3 separate regions of the Homo sapiens genome follow, and all the other regions are reported to be linked to region 2. Evidence: microRNA targets listed by miRTarBase, many of them from high-throughput screens and not tested one by one. Region 2 holds a microRNA gene; each other region holds the end of a gene's coding sequence.
What was found. Region 2 holds the annotated microRNA hsa-miR-6856-5p (AAGAGAGGAGCAGUGGUGCUGUGG, at 1,438-1,461, shown strand). A microRNA usually pairs through its seed, bases 2 to 8, with sites in the 3' UTR of a target mRNA and lowers its output. Matches are read on the target gene's strand: a 7mer-m8 pairs with bases 2 to 8, a 7mer-A1 pairs with bases 2 to 7 and ends in A, and an 8mer does both.

Region 1: the mRNA of MAN1A2 is a reported target of hsa-miR-6856-5p. Seed matches in the 3' UTR shown: 7mer-A1 at 3,768-3,774.
Region 3: the mRNA of BGN is a reported target of hsa-miR-6856-5p. Seed matches in the 3' UTR shown: 7mer-m8 at 1,145-1,151.

The regions. Positions count from the first base shown.
Region 1 is chr1:117,522,109-117,526,453 of GRCh38, forward strand. It overlaps MAN1A2 (mannosidase alpha class 1A member 2), which reads left to right. Exons shown (of 13, transcript NM_006699.5): 13 at 717-4,345. The coding sequence ends at 849. Among named protein-coding and RNA genes, the nearest start is that of TENT5C-DT, 81 kb to the right of the region's middle.
Region 2 is chr9:130,624,865-130,628,864 of GRCh38, forward strand. It overlaps MIR6856 (microRNA 6856), which reads left to right and starts at 1,433; the gene lies at 1,433-1,499. It overlaps FUBP3 (far upstream element binding protein 3), which reads left to right. Exons shown (of 19, transcript NM_003934.2): 12 at 1,500-1,641.
Region 3 is chrX:153,507,884-153,512,228 of GRCh38, forward strand. It overlaps BGN (biglycan), which reads left to right. Exons shown (of 8, transcript NM_001711.6): 8 at 365-1,663. The coding sequence ends at 562. Among named protein-coding and RNA genes, the nearest start is that of ATP2B3, 7.6 kb to the right of the region's middle.

The sequences.
Region 1 (4,345 bases), not on the chromosome of region 2:
AAATCTCTCAAATCACTGCTAAAGAACTTACTCATGTAACCAAATACCACCTGTACCCCAGTAACTTATGGAAAAAAATGAATGACAGCAGAGTCCTCATCAGAACCAATATTCCTCCTGAACATAGATAGAACTAAACAAGATTTTGACAAATCAACTCTAACAACAAATTACATAGATAATATGTTATGACTAAATGGGTTTATCCCAGGTGTGGAGGGTTGATTTAATGTTTGAAAATCAATGAACTAAAATAGACCACCTCAGTAGACAGAAAAATTATTTGGCAAAATCCAACACCCATTTCTGATAAAAACTCTCAGCAAACTGGGAATAGAAGGAAACTTCTTACCCTGATAAGGGCATATATGAAAAACCTACAGCTAACATCATATTGAAAAACTGAATGTGTTGCTCTTAAGATTAGGAACAAGACAAAGGTGTCTGCTCTCTTCACCACACCTGGCCGGATTTTTTTTTAAACTGTTTTATTTCAGTAGGTCTAGTTGTTCATCTTACTGGATTTCTTATACACTATTCTGAAACCTCTTGTCTTTGTGTTTAGATCATTTGGGTGTCTGAGGTTTATTTCTTTGATGTTTTTCATCAAAGCTGCTCAAAATACGTTATTGGTTTTCTGTGCCATTAAAAGTGAGCTCACTTCATGTTCTTGTTGAATTCTAACTGAAGCTCATTTCTCCCCTTTTTATTTTCAGATATTTGTATCTGCTGTTCTCCGGTGATGACCTTTTACCTTTAGACCACTGGGTGTTTAATACAGAGGCTCACCCTCTGCCTGTGTTACATTTAGCCAACACCACACTTTCAGGTAATCCTGCTGTTCGATGAAAGCAGTTCCAGAAGGACCATTCTCACCTGTGTTTTGTTTACATGGACCACTACAGAAATTAGTTTGAAGGGGCGGCTTTTGAAAACCTGGACCTCTATGTCAACATGACAGGGTGAAACTATTCCCCCTAAGACTGTTCAACTTGTAGATACATCAACTTTGAAATTATTCCATTTTATACCTGACCAAAACATGTTCTGATATGTGTAGGACAGAGACCTGGATGTGCTTTGATCGTTAATGAGGTGGTCACATGAGAAATGATACCTGTTACTACTGTATTGTTTTTAGAGTCCTGAAGTCTGGAGGCTAGACTTCCTGAAAGCAAGTCAAGAATATAGAGCACCTTGCAGGAGTTCAAGATGGCCTTTGGAACCAATTATGTATTTGTTTCCTCCTACAGTGGAGCAGCATTCAAATCAAATATTTACATATTGCTTATCACTTTTTCTCCATTTTAATAATGGAATGAACTAAAATAAACAAGAACAAAAGAATAGTATAATTATATCAGTAACAAGAAGACTCAAAAAAGAAACAGGAGTACCTATCCCTATCTGAATTTTCAAGTTCCCCATTGGATGACCAGACTGGCAACCATTTCAAATCCCAGTCTATTTCATTGAAATTTCTTGGTTAAGTTTAATTTTCTCTGGGGGCATGATCTCACAAAGAATACTCAAGTCTTTTTCTTCTTATGGAATCATCGAAACTGCTATTTATCATAATCACCACTTATGAGCCTGGGTTTGGGATTTTGTGCATGTAGTTCAGTCTAGTGTTGGTAGCATGACAGAAAGTGGGGAAAATGCCGCAGTTTGTTGCCTTGAAACCTAAGAGCAATCCTTGGTTTTGTTGCTACATTATTTTTCCAGACCAACACATCTACCAAGTAAATTTTATTCACTTTAATTTCATAATAAAGTTAGTAGAGTCACTCAACTTACAACTTTATTTATGTGGCTTGGCAAAAATCACTATAAGGCAGCTCTAAATTTGCCTTGATAAGCTAAATAAATTACTTTTATAACTTACTAAAGCAGAACAAACAGTGAAACTTTCTAAAATATTCTATCTGGAATAGGGACAGGGGATCTTTTATTTATAATCTCATCAGATGAGTGAGTTGTTCACAGATATTTTATGTTTTTTTAATTTTCTCCAAGAATATTTATAGAATTCCAAAGAATCAGAATAGTTTCAAAATAATTTTCAGTGATAAAAGAGTGTTGTAATTAATCATATTACACTAAAATTGGGATACATCTAAGGAACTTTATCTTACTATCAGTAGGTTTTGCATTGATATTTCTTTTTAAATAAACTACTAGTTCTTTATATTTTGACAAAAAGAACTTAAATTTTATCAGGAACTGTAAGATAAATATCTAGTGCTTATAAATTTTCTGTCCTTAAATTTATGTGACAGTGCAAGATACTTTTGCTCTTTTCATTTAATATAGGCATCTTCCATTGACATTAATAAAACTTAGAAACAGTATAATTAGTATAACATTTACTCTGAATTTGAAGATTTCCTGAAACAAAGTTTGTACAAGAAGCCCACCTTGGAATTCTGAAGGCTTATTTTCTTGTTTGATAAGCTTTTCTTTTAAACTTAGGTTTTAAGTTGGGGAAAGACTTAATTAACTAATATAGTATTTTCTAAGGTTGATCATCTTATACCACGAATCGTTAATTTTGACAGTTCTACTGATCCGTAAATGATAACCACTGCAAATTTTTTCAGTATAAAATTTTTCACTGCAAAAAAATTTCAGTAGAAAATAAGGATGCAGGGCCAGTTACAATAGTCCTTAAGAGAGTTAAATTATAGCACATGTTTTGACATTGTAATATCTTTTACTACTTGAACATTTAAATTTCTAAATGAGAAAGGTATATATATTACTGTAACTGTAGAAGGGAAAAGGGAAAGTATTTGGTTCTAAAAAATGTTAGCCTTCCTCGTAAAAGTAGCACAAGCCCACTTATGAATCACTGAGAAAAAGTGAAAAACTTGAGTTGGCAAAGATGCAGAGCAGCAGTGCAGATGGCAATGAACTCTCTGAATTCTCTTTTACCTTATTTAGAAGAATGCAGAGTAAAGGGACCTTCTTGGTTCTGCAGGAACTTCTCAAGGGATGAGGAGACAGAACCCCTACTTCCAAGTGCTCTATTTGTATTACCCAGATGACTGAAGCTTAAGAGAAGGCAGGGAAGTATACAAGCAGAGCCAGTTCTGGTACAAACAAAGAATTTGACAGGGACAATGGAAGGGTCTTCTTCACCACTCCTTACCTTCTATGTGATGGAAAGACTAGAGCTTATAAAAGTACTTCCATTTTTTTATTCTCCTGAATACCAAAGGCAATTAAAGTCAGCTACAAATGACTTGCCAGTGTCATGTTTTATTTTTGTTATAGATTTTTAAATTATTTCCTTCAAGATCAATTCTTATCCCATATAATGCTTAGCTTCCAAGAATATTCTTTACTTTCTTCTGTCTTTTACAGCTCTTTGCATTTTGTAGACCTTAATACTCAGGTTAAATATTCATTGCATTTATAAGATCTTCTGCAAAAAGCCCAGAAATGGTCCTTTTCAGGTGCCTCTTCAAAGAGCTGACACCTTACCTTGTGCCTTTGGCACAAATGTGCAGAATAGATACATCAGTTGGTGCATAATCGAAAAAAATAGGAATTTTGAACACTGTTCTTCCTTCTACATTTATTTCTCTTCATTTTAGAATCACACTTTTTATGTTAAACCAGATTATTATTATTATTATTATTCAACCAGTATTAAGTTGTTAAAACCAAGGGAATGGGGCCCTAACCAAAAAGAAGTCTCAACTCAGAAAAATAAGTCCCCAGTCAGGTGGTTCTTACTTTCTTGTGGGTTGCACATTTTGTATCTCTCTAACATCAGCGTATTCCTGACTTTAAGCAGGTGTTTATATGTAAAATAAAACCTGGGTATCGAAGGGAAATGCATTCTTTTTATGGAGTATTGACCCTGATCCTCTATGATGTCATATAGAGCAACTCAGGGCTATACTTGCTAGATTTTAACCAAGCAGTTTGAAATATTAATCATCATCCTCTCATCTTCTCCACTCTCCATTGCCAAAGTCTTTGTCAAAACTCCAAATTTGTTGATAAAAGATTGTGTTTGCCATTCTCATTTATAATGCAGTTTCTCCTTAAGCCTGGAGTTTTTTGAATGAGTGCATGAGTAAATGAGAGAATGTGTGAACGAACATTTATGAAGTATCTAACATGTGCCAAGCATTGTGCCTGGCACTTTCAATCATTAGAATGTTTTATGTGATTCCACAGCATTTTCTGTATGAGAGTAGCTCACAACATTTTAAATGTTTCCAATATGAATCGTGTTACAAAATTCTTAATTTTATATTTCATATAAATTAAAGAGGAAAAAGAAAAGGTTTATAATATATTTTAAAACAATGTGTTACTGTATAATACAACT
Region 2 (4,000 bases):
CACCTGAGGTCAGGAGTTCGAGACCAGCCTGACCAACATGGTGAAACCCTGTCTCTGCTGAAAATACAAAATTAGCTGGACGTGGTGGCTCACGCCTGTAATCCTAGCACTTTGGGATGCCAAGGCAGGTGGATCACCTGAGGTCAGGAGTTCAAGACCAACATGGTGAGACCCGTCCCTACTAAAAATACAAAATTAGCCGGGCGTGGTGGCGCATGCCTATAGTTTCAGCTACTCAGGAGGCTGAGGCAGGAGAATTGCTTAAACCCAGGAAGCGGAGGTTGCAGTGAGCCAGGATCCTGCCATTGCATTCCCGCCTGGGCAACAAGAGCAAAACTCTGTCTCAAAAAAAGTTTATGAACCTTGCACTGCAGAGGCTGCGAGATGTTTGGGAGAAAACCTTTTCTTCGAGATCTGTGGCATACCCAGAAAGTTGACTGTGCGCTCCTGTGCGTGTGTGAACATCCATTCTAAAATTGCCTTGTTTACTTGGCAGTTGTCTCATAAGAGCAGAGTGCGGGGGAAAAGCACTCCAATTGTCTCAGCTTTCTGCTGGTTTAGATTCTGGGTAAACGTTCACTTTACTCTTAATCAACATGAGCAGGTTTTGCCCAACATTTCTTCATGTGTTGAAAAGTCTGTGCAGCTTCTCCCTTCCATGAAATAGCTCTTAGCTTGACCAGGTTCACCCTCCACATTTAAGAGAGTTTAAATACTGCAGCTCCAAAATGACTCCGCGGACAGCGGCTGGAATGAGACTTGCTGCTGTCTCAATGAAAGGGCTCTTCCTCTGTCCGCTGTTAGATTTAGGTTTTTCTCTCTGCTGGGTGAACAGTGGGAGAATGCCTCAGAGACTTCTCCAGCCCCACATGGGGAGGAGGCCTTGGCAGGTTCCCTCTGTTCCTCCCTTCTGAAGTATCCCTGAATGGTCACTCTTGAACCTGTTACTGCTGCTGCTGCTTGGGGGCACAACAGCCAAGAAGTTTTCTAAAACTGAGTAAAATCCGTTTATCCTTCTTGCTGACTGGAGTGCCAGGTGTTGTGACTCATAGCAGTGCCTGGTTGGGGAGGGTCAGCAGGCTGTGCATATCTGACTTCCCATAGGCCCAGTATGTGTCCGCCGCAGGAAAGAGGGGCCTCAGCTGCAAGGGAGAAAGCAGTTCTTGATGCCTGTAGATCGGGGCCCAGTGAGGAAAGCTCCAGGGAGAAAGGCCGCTGGGCTTCAGCCTTGGAGTTTGTGTCTGCCTATTTCTGTTGGATACATTTGAGCTGTTTATGTAACCACGTGTGTTCGTCTGCACAGGTCCTCCCCAGATACACCTGTGATCGGTGTTAATTCTGGCTTGAAAGAGCCCTTCAGAATGGGAAGTGTGGAAAGGTGCTAGGTTCTGATGGGTGGCATTGATTACATCCTGTCACTTAACCTCCTCCCTGGAAAAGAGAGGAGCAGTGGTGCTGTGGCAGTGGCAGAGGTCGCTACAGCCCTGTGATCTTTCCAGGAAAGAGACGGCTTTGGAGGCCTGGCAGCAGCCAGAGGAAGAGGTCGTGGCCGTGGCGACTGGAGCGTGGGAGCCCCTGGTGGCGTCCAGGAGATAACATACACGGTGCCAGCCGATAAGTGTGGCCTCGTCATAGGCAAAGGTAAGAGGCAGCTGGGGTTTCACATCCCCCCTCAGCTGTTTGGCTTGAGGGAAGGCAGGTCACGGGACCTCCAGAACCTTTGGTGAGGTCCCTTTGCTGCTGCAGGCTGGGGCTGCCCGGTCTGGAGGCAGTAGCCACCTTCTGCCGAAACCCTGCTTGGCATGGTTCTCTGAGGCTGCTGACGGGCCTGTTGTGAGGAGCAAAGTGTATTATTTCTGGTGAGTATGAAGAGACAGCAGTAAAACTCCCTGCCTGTTGAGGGCAGCTTAGCTTGGTGAAAAGATACCTTGCGCAAGATGGGGGGCATTTGTCAATCGACTGATTGGTAATTAACTCACCTCCAAGGAACTTAGAGGGACGGTTGAGACAGTATCCTCAGTGAAAATTCCTTCTCGACAGTGTGTCACTTGTTTCCCTTACCAGGTTTGAGTATTTGGTCTTGATCCGCGTAACATGTGAAAATGGTTTTTATCCTTTCTGCATATTTACCGTGAGTCACGGACTCTCTGTGGAGGGAAATAAACATTGATGTGTTAGTTTTTTCTGGGCATTTTGGAGAACATTAGGAAGAAACCCTCATTCATGGCTACTGTAGCTCCTTCCTGTCCTTCACTGAGAACCAGGAGAGAGCAGCCACATTTCTCAGCCATTGGCAGCAGTTCATCTTGGCTAGCCCTGGGACCCAGAAAGGCTACTGAGACCAGGGCCGAGGCTGTGGGGCCTTCCCAGTGTAGCAGCAGGGCTCGGCTTCCGTGGGGCTCTGAGCCAGGCCTCGCTGCCAGCGGGGGACTCCCGTTGTCACTGGGTTTCGTATTTGCCTTCATTAGGTATTTGACAGCATGTGGAGAAAACAGTCGTCTCTCCAGAGTTTCTCAAATTTCTTTGATCACCAAATACCCCTTAGCTGCTTGAGGGGCGCTCGTATTGGATAGGCAGGACTTGGGGATGCTTCACCAGCAGAGACCTCCAGAGCTGGGCAGGTGGGAGCCCCCCGACACTCACCTCCCAGGAGCTGCCCTCGTCCCTGCTCACAGACACTGTGGGCTTATGCTCTTGCAAAATGCAAGAAACCGTGTTGTCTTTTAGACTGAACCACTCAGAGTTGGTATGGGTTCGTGTTCATTTGCCGGCAGGTGTGCGGGCTGGTGAGTGTTTGGGGATATTGCAGGCTGCACCAGATGCTGCCAGAAGTCCCACACTACCCAGGCCGTCAGCCTGACCGCTGTGAGACTGCAGCTAGTTGATGCCTGTAGGTTGACGATTAGCTAGATCTAGATTTCTTGGCCTTTTGCAAACTATTTTGTCGGCGAAGTTTTCATTTGCTTGTGTCTCTAAACCCTGACTGAGCATTGTTGCCTCACCATGACAGGTTCTCATAGTGAGCCCTTGGTGCTCACAGAGCAGCCCCTCGTAGTTGGTCCTCCACAAAGTCATCCTGAGTGATTCCTAGAAAACAGTGATGAGAACGAAGCAGTAACTGGTCTGTGTCCCATGCTTGAATAGCAGCCTAAAGAAGCCTAATTAGTGTCTCGGATATGGGAGGGTCTTTCTATGTCACACACACACCGCACTAAACACACGCACGCACGCACGCACGCGCACACACACACACACACACACACCCCCTACCCCTCAGGGCCCATGTGAGACATCTCTTTTCCTTGAGATGGGCGCCTGGGCAAGGGAGAGAGGAGCCCCACGCAGCCAGGCCCATCTTTCCTTGGCCTCTGGCCTGGACAGACACAGAGCCTCCCTGGCCCCTGCTGGATTTCCATGATAAACACAGCAACATTGACAGATAGCTCAGCCAGCCTGCTCTTGTCAGCCAGGCCTTTTAGCAGGTTTGATTAATTGCTTTACGATTTCACGTCCAGCCAGGGGGCCACTGGTGGGGCACTTCTGCCCCCCATCAGGTAGAAGAATGGAGCGGGCTGCTGAATGAGTCTATAGACAGCCACCATGTGCCAAGCTAGTGACCTCATTTTGAAGGAAGATGAACTTAAATTAACTCCTTCTGGCCCCACGAGGTTTTGTGGCGCCTCCTCACCTTATTAGCATGTTCCCAAGGCCTGGGGATGAGGGGCCCAGTGGGGAGGGCCGGGGCCTCGGCTGTCTGGGGACTGCAGGATTCTCAGTCGCAGACACTCGTGTACTTGTGCTTTTGCCTCCAGACCAAGTGGATCTGGTTGGAGGCTGGTAGGGTTCCCTCGAGTCTTACGTGTGCCTGTGGAAATGGTCTCCATTTTGGTTTCTATTCTTTTTTATTTTTTTTTATTTTTTTGAGATGGAGTTTCGCTTTTGTTGCCCAGGCTGGAGTGCAGTGGCGTGATCATGGCTCACTGCAACCTCCGCCTCTGGG
Region 3 (4,345 bases), not on the chromosome of region 2:
TCCCAAGGGCTCTTTCTCCTCTCATGCCCCATGGAGTGTGAGGGTGCTCCCCCGAGGCTCAGGCCACCTTTCCTCCACCTCACACCACCAAACACACCTCTACCCCAGCCCCGCCCCCACATGTCCTCAACCTGACCCACCTGAGACCCTCATCCTTGTCCCTGGTCACATCCAGTGCCTTAATCCTGGCTGACACCCACACAAATAACACGCCCATGCCTTGGTTTGCTCCTCCCAACAACGGGGAGCCTCTGGTGTGGCCCTTGAAGTAGGGTGCAGAGGCAACAGCAAAATGCCTCCTGGAGGCAGCGGGCTTGGCGTGGAGGGAGGGAGGCCTGCCGTGACCCGGCCTCTCTGCCTTCAGGTGGTCTATCTGCACTCCAACAACATCACCAAAGTGGGTGTCAACGACTTCTGTCCCATGGGCTTCGGGGTGAAGCGGGCCTACTACAACGGCATCAGCCTCTTCAACAACCCCGTGCCCTACTGGGAGGTGCAGCCGGCCACTTTCCGCTGCGTCACTGACCGCCTGGCCATCCAGTTTGGCAACTACAAAAAGTAGAGGCAGCTGCAGCCACCGCGGGGCCTCAGTGGGGGTCTCTGGGGAACACAGCCAGACATCCTGATGGGGAGGCAGAGCCAGGAAGCTAAGCCAGGGCCCAGCTGCGTCCAACCCAGCCCCCCACCTCGGGTCCCTGACCCCAGCTCGATGCCCCATCACCGCCTCTCCCTGGCTCCCAAGGGTGCAGGTGGGCGCAAGGCCCGGCCCCCATCACATGTTCCCTTGGCCTCAGAGCTGCCCCTGCTCTCCCACCACAGCCACCCAGAGGCACCCCATGAAGCTTTTTTCTCGTTCACTCCCAAACCCAAGTGTCCAAGGCTCCAGTCCTAGGAGAACAGTCCCTGGGTCAGCAGCCAGGAGGCGGTCCATAAGAATGGGGACAGTGGGCTCTGCCAGGGCTGCCGCACCTGTCCAGACACACATGTTCTGTTCCTCCTCCTCATGCATTTCCAGCCTTTCAACCCTCCCCGACTCTGCGGCTCCCCTCAGCCCCCTTGCAAGTTCATGGCCTGTCCCTCCCAGACCCCTGCTCCACTGGCCCTTCGACCAGTCCTCCCTTCTGTTCTCTCTTTCCCCGTCCTTCCTCTCTCTCTCTCTCTCTCTCTCTCTCTCTTTCTGTGTGTGTGTGTGTGTGTGTGTGTGTGTGTGTGTGTGTGTGTGTCTTGTGCTTCCTCAGACCTTTCTCGCTTCTGAGCTTGGTGGCCTGTTCCCTCCATCTCTCCGAACCTGGCTTCGCCTGTCCCTTTCACTCCACACCCTCTGGCCTTCTGCCTTGAGCTGGGACTGCTTTCTGTCTGTCCGGCCTGCACCCAGCCCCTGCCCACAAAACCCCAGGGACAGCAGTCTCCCCAGCCTGCCCTGCTCAGGCCTTGCCCCCAAACCTGTACTGTCCCGGAGGAGGTTGGGAGGTGGAGGCCCAGCATCCCGCGCAGATGACACCATCAACCGCCAGAGTCCCAGACACCGGTTTTCCTAGAAGCCCCTCACCCCCACTGGCCCACTGGTGGCTAGGTCTCCCCTTATCCTTCTGGTCCAGCGCAAGGAGGGGCTGCTTCTGAGGTCGGTGGCTGTCTTTCCATTAAAGAAACACCGTGCAACGTGGCTCCGTGCGCTGCTCCTGTGGCGGCCTGGCCTCTCCGTGCCCCTCCTGGCCCTTGGGCTCCTTGCCCTCAGAAGAGGGGCCCCGTCACCCTCAGAAGAGGGGCCCCGTCACCCTCAGGTCTGGGCTAGCCCGGACTAGGGAGGTTTCCCCTCCCTTCTAGACACTTCCATGGCCCCAGCTGTCCTGAGACGCGGCTCCAGAATCCAACCAGGCCTGAATGGCACCTGCCCTCTCAGCGTGGAGCGTTTGCCAAGAGCACGCCGACTGCAGGGCGCCAGGCTAGAGCCTGGAAATCTAAGCGGGGCCCGGCCTGCCCAGCTCCATGGAGTCTAGGGTTCACAACGAGGCACCGCCAAAACCCAGGGGGTGACACAGGAGGGAAGGGGCCCAATGGAGCCAGGGCAGGGTGCTGTGTGCACCCACTTGCACTGGCCTGGCCTTGGCTCCCCTGCCAGCCCCCTGGCAGGTGACACTGTGTGTAGGCAGAGCCGAGCCTGGGCTGCAAGGCATTCCCACACACGCAGCATCCAGAGAGAGGATCCAGGTCAGGGCCGGGAAAGCCTGCATGCTGGGGACACAGGTCGTCCTGGAAAGGACAGCTTGGAGGGGGACAGTCCCCAGAGCAACGCTACCGCCTGTGACTTTCCTTCGGCCCTGCACGAAGAGCCTCAGAGCAGGTGGCGGGACCTGGGGCTTCCCTGGGCAGCCCAGGCTCCCAACGGAAATAGAGTGGGCAGGGCCCGCGTGAATGGCAGCCTGGCACTGCGTGTTGGCTCCTCACACATAACTGCGTCTTTATGGCTGGACTGGCACTGGCGCACTGGCATCCCCAGGTTTCTCCTTTCTGGGATAGGAGGTGCCACACAGTGTGGTGGCCCAGTGATAGAAAGTCACCATCAGCATCACAGCACTATTCTGGGCCATGTGCTCTACGGCCCGGCAATGTCTGCTGAGCTGGGCAGGCATGGTGCAAGGGAACTGGGCAGGGGCCGGGAGTCAAGGCTTCGGGCAAGTCCCCTCGCTGGCTGGGAGGAGGGGCAGCCAGCGCCACGGCCTGGCAGAGATGGAAAGATGGGGCTTCCGCCCATTCATCTGTGAGCGGGTCTTGGGGCATTGGCTCTGTGTTCAGTGGGTCCAACACAGCCCCCGTGAATCTGTCCACTCTTCCTGCCTCGCTCCCATCCTTCCTGTGCCTCCTTTCCTCTCTGTCTGCCTCTCATTTCATGCACCTTCATCACACCTGTCCTCTGCGTGTCCCAGCTCAGGGATGCAGTGTGGGTGGAGGACAAGCTAGTGGGATGAGTGTGATATGGGTGGTCAGTGCAGAGGAAGGCATCCTGCAGGCTGCGTGCTTAGCCCACACAGCAGGGGGTGCCCTGCAGGCAGCACACACTCTGCCTGGACTAGAGTGCCAAGCCCCCGAGGCAGGAGCCCAGAGCTGGACAGGGTCACAGCCTGCAAGGGCTTCTGGGTCGTGGTGGAAGGTGAGCTCCATCCTCAAAGCAGTTGGTCCTGACCACAGTGTGAAGATGAATCACATAGCCTCACTCTACCGCCAAGTGTGGGAAAAACTATTAGCTAATACTAGCCAAGGTGAGACTGATTTGGGCTTAAAAAAGAAAATGGCTAGGCGTGGTGGCTCACGGCTGTCATCTCAGCACTTTGGGAGGCCAAGGCAGGAAGATTGCTTGAGGCCAGGAGTCCAAGACCAGCCTAGGCAACATAGTGAGACCCCATCTCTAAAAAAGAAAAAACTAAAAAATTAGCTAGGCATTGTGGCACACGCCAGTGGTCCCAGCTGCTCAGGAGGCTGAGGTTGGAAGATCATTTGTGCCGGGGAGGTTCTCCCGGCAAGCTGCCAATCCCCCACATTTACTTGCAAGTGGCTTCGAAAGTAGGACTGTGCTCAGGGCCCCAGCTGTGGCATAGGAAGGCCTAGGGTGGACAACGGCTGGGCTGCAAGTTCCAGCCGATCTTTGCTTGAGTAGGGTCCCCTGAACTTGGTGACAGATTGGGTGTAGTGTGAGAACGGGGTTGGTTGTGATGCTCCGTGGCCTGGAGAGGGGAAGGGGACCCTGAGGACCACCACCTGACGGCCAGGAGCATTCCGGAGCTGCTGGAAGGCAGCAGGCGTGGGCTTACACACGTACACACACACATGCACGAACACACGTGCACACGCACACAAATGCGTACACAAACACACACGCACACATGCACACTTGAACACACAAACACAAGCACACAGAAACAAACATATGCCGCACAAACACATGTGCACACAAACACACACAGCAATGCAGGTCACAAAGCCGCTTCCTCGGGGAGTGGCTGTGGAGGGCACAGGGCCGCCGTGGGGCCGTTTCTCAGCATTTGCTGCAGGTCAGGTGCCTTCTGGGCACAGCAGGGCCCAGCGGGAGCCTAAGCCGAATCCACTGCTACGGTTTAGACGAGTCCGGGCTTGTCAAAGGGGCAGCGAGCCAGACCTTGGCAGGCTGGGCCCACGATGCGGGCAGGACCCCTGAGGGACACGACCCCTCCTTGGAGGGCTGCAGGGGCAGGTGGCAGGCCTGGGAGCCAAGTCAGAGGGGCTGCCCTGAGGACTTGGCAGTGGCCTGGTCTCCAGGCTCTGCTCCCACAGGCTCCAGCTCTAGTCTCAGGAGGCAGGGACCACAGGAAGA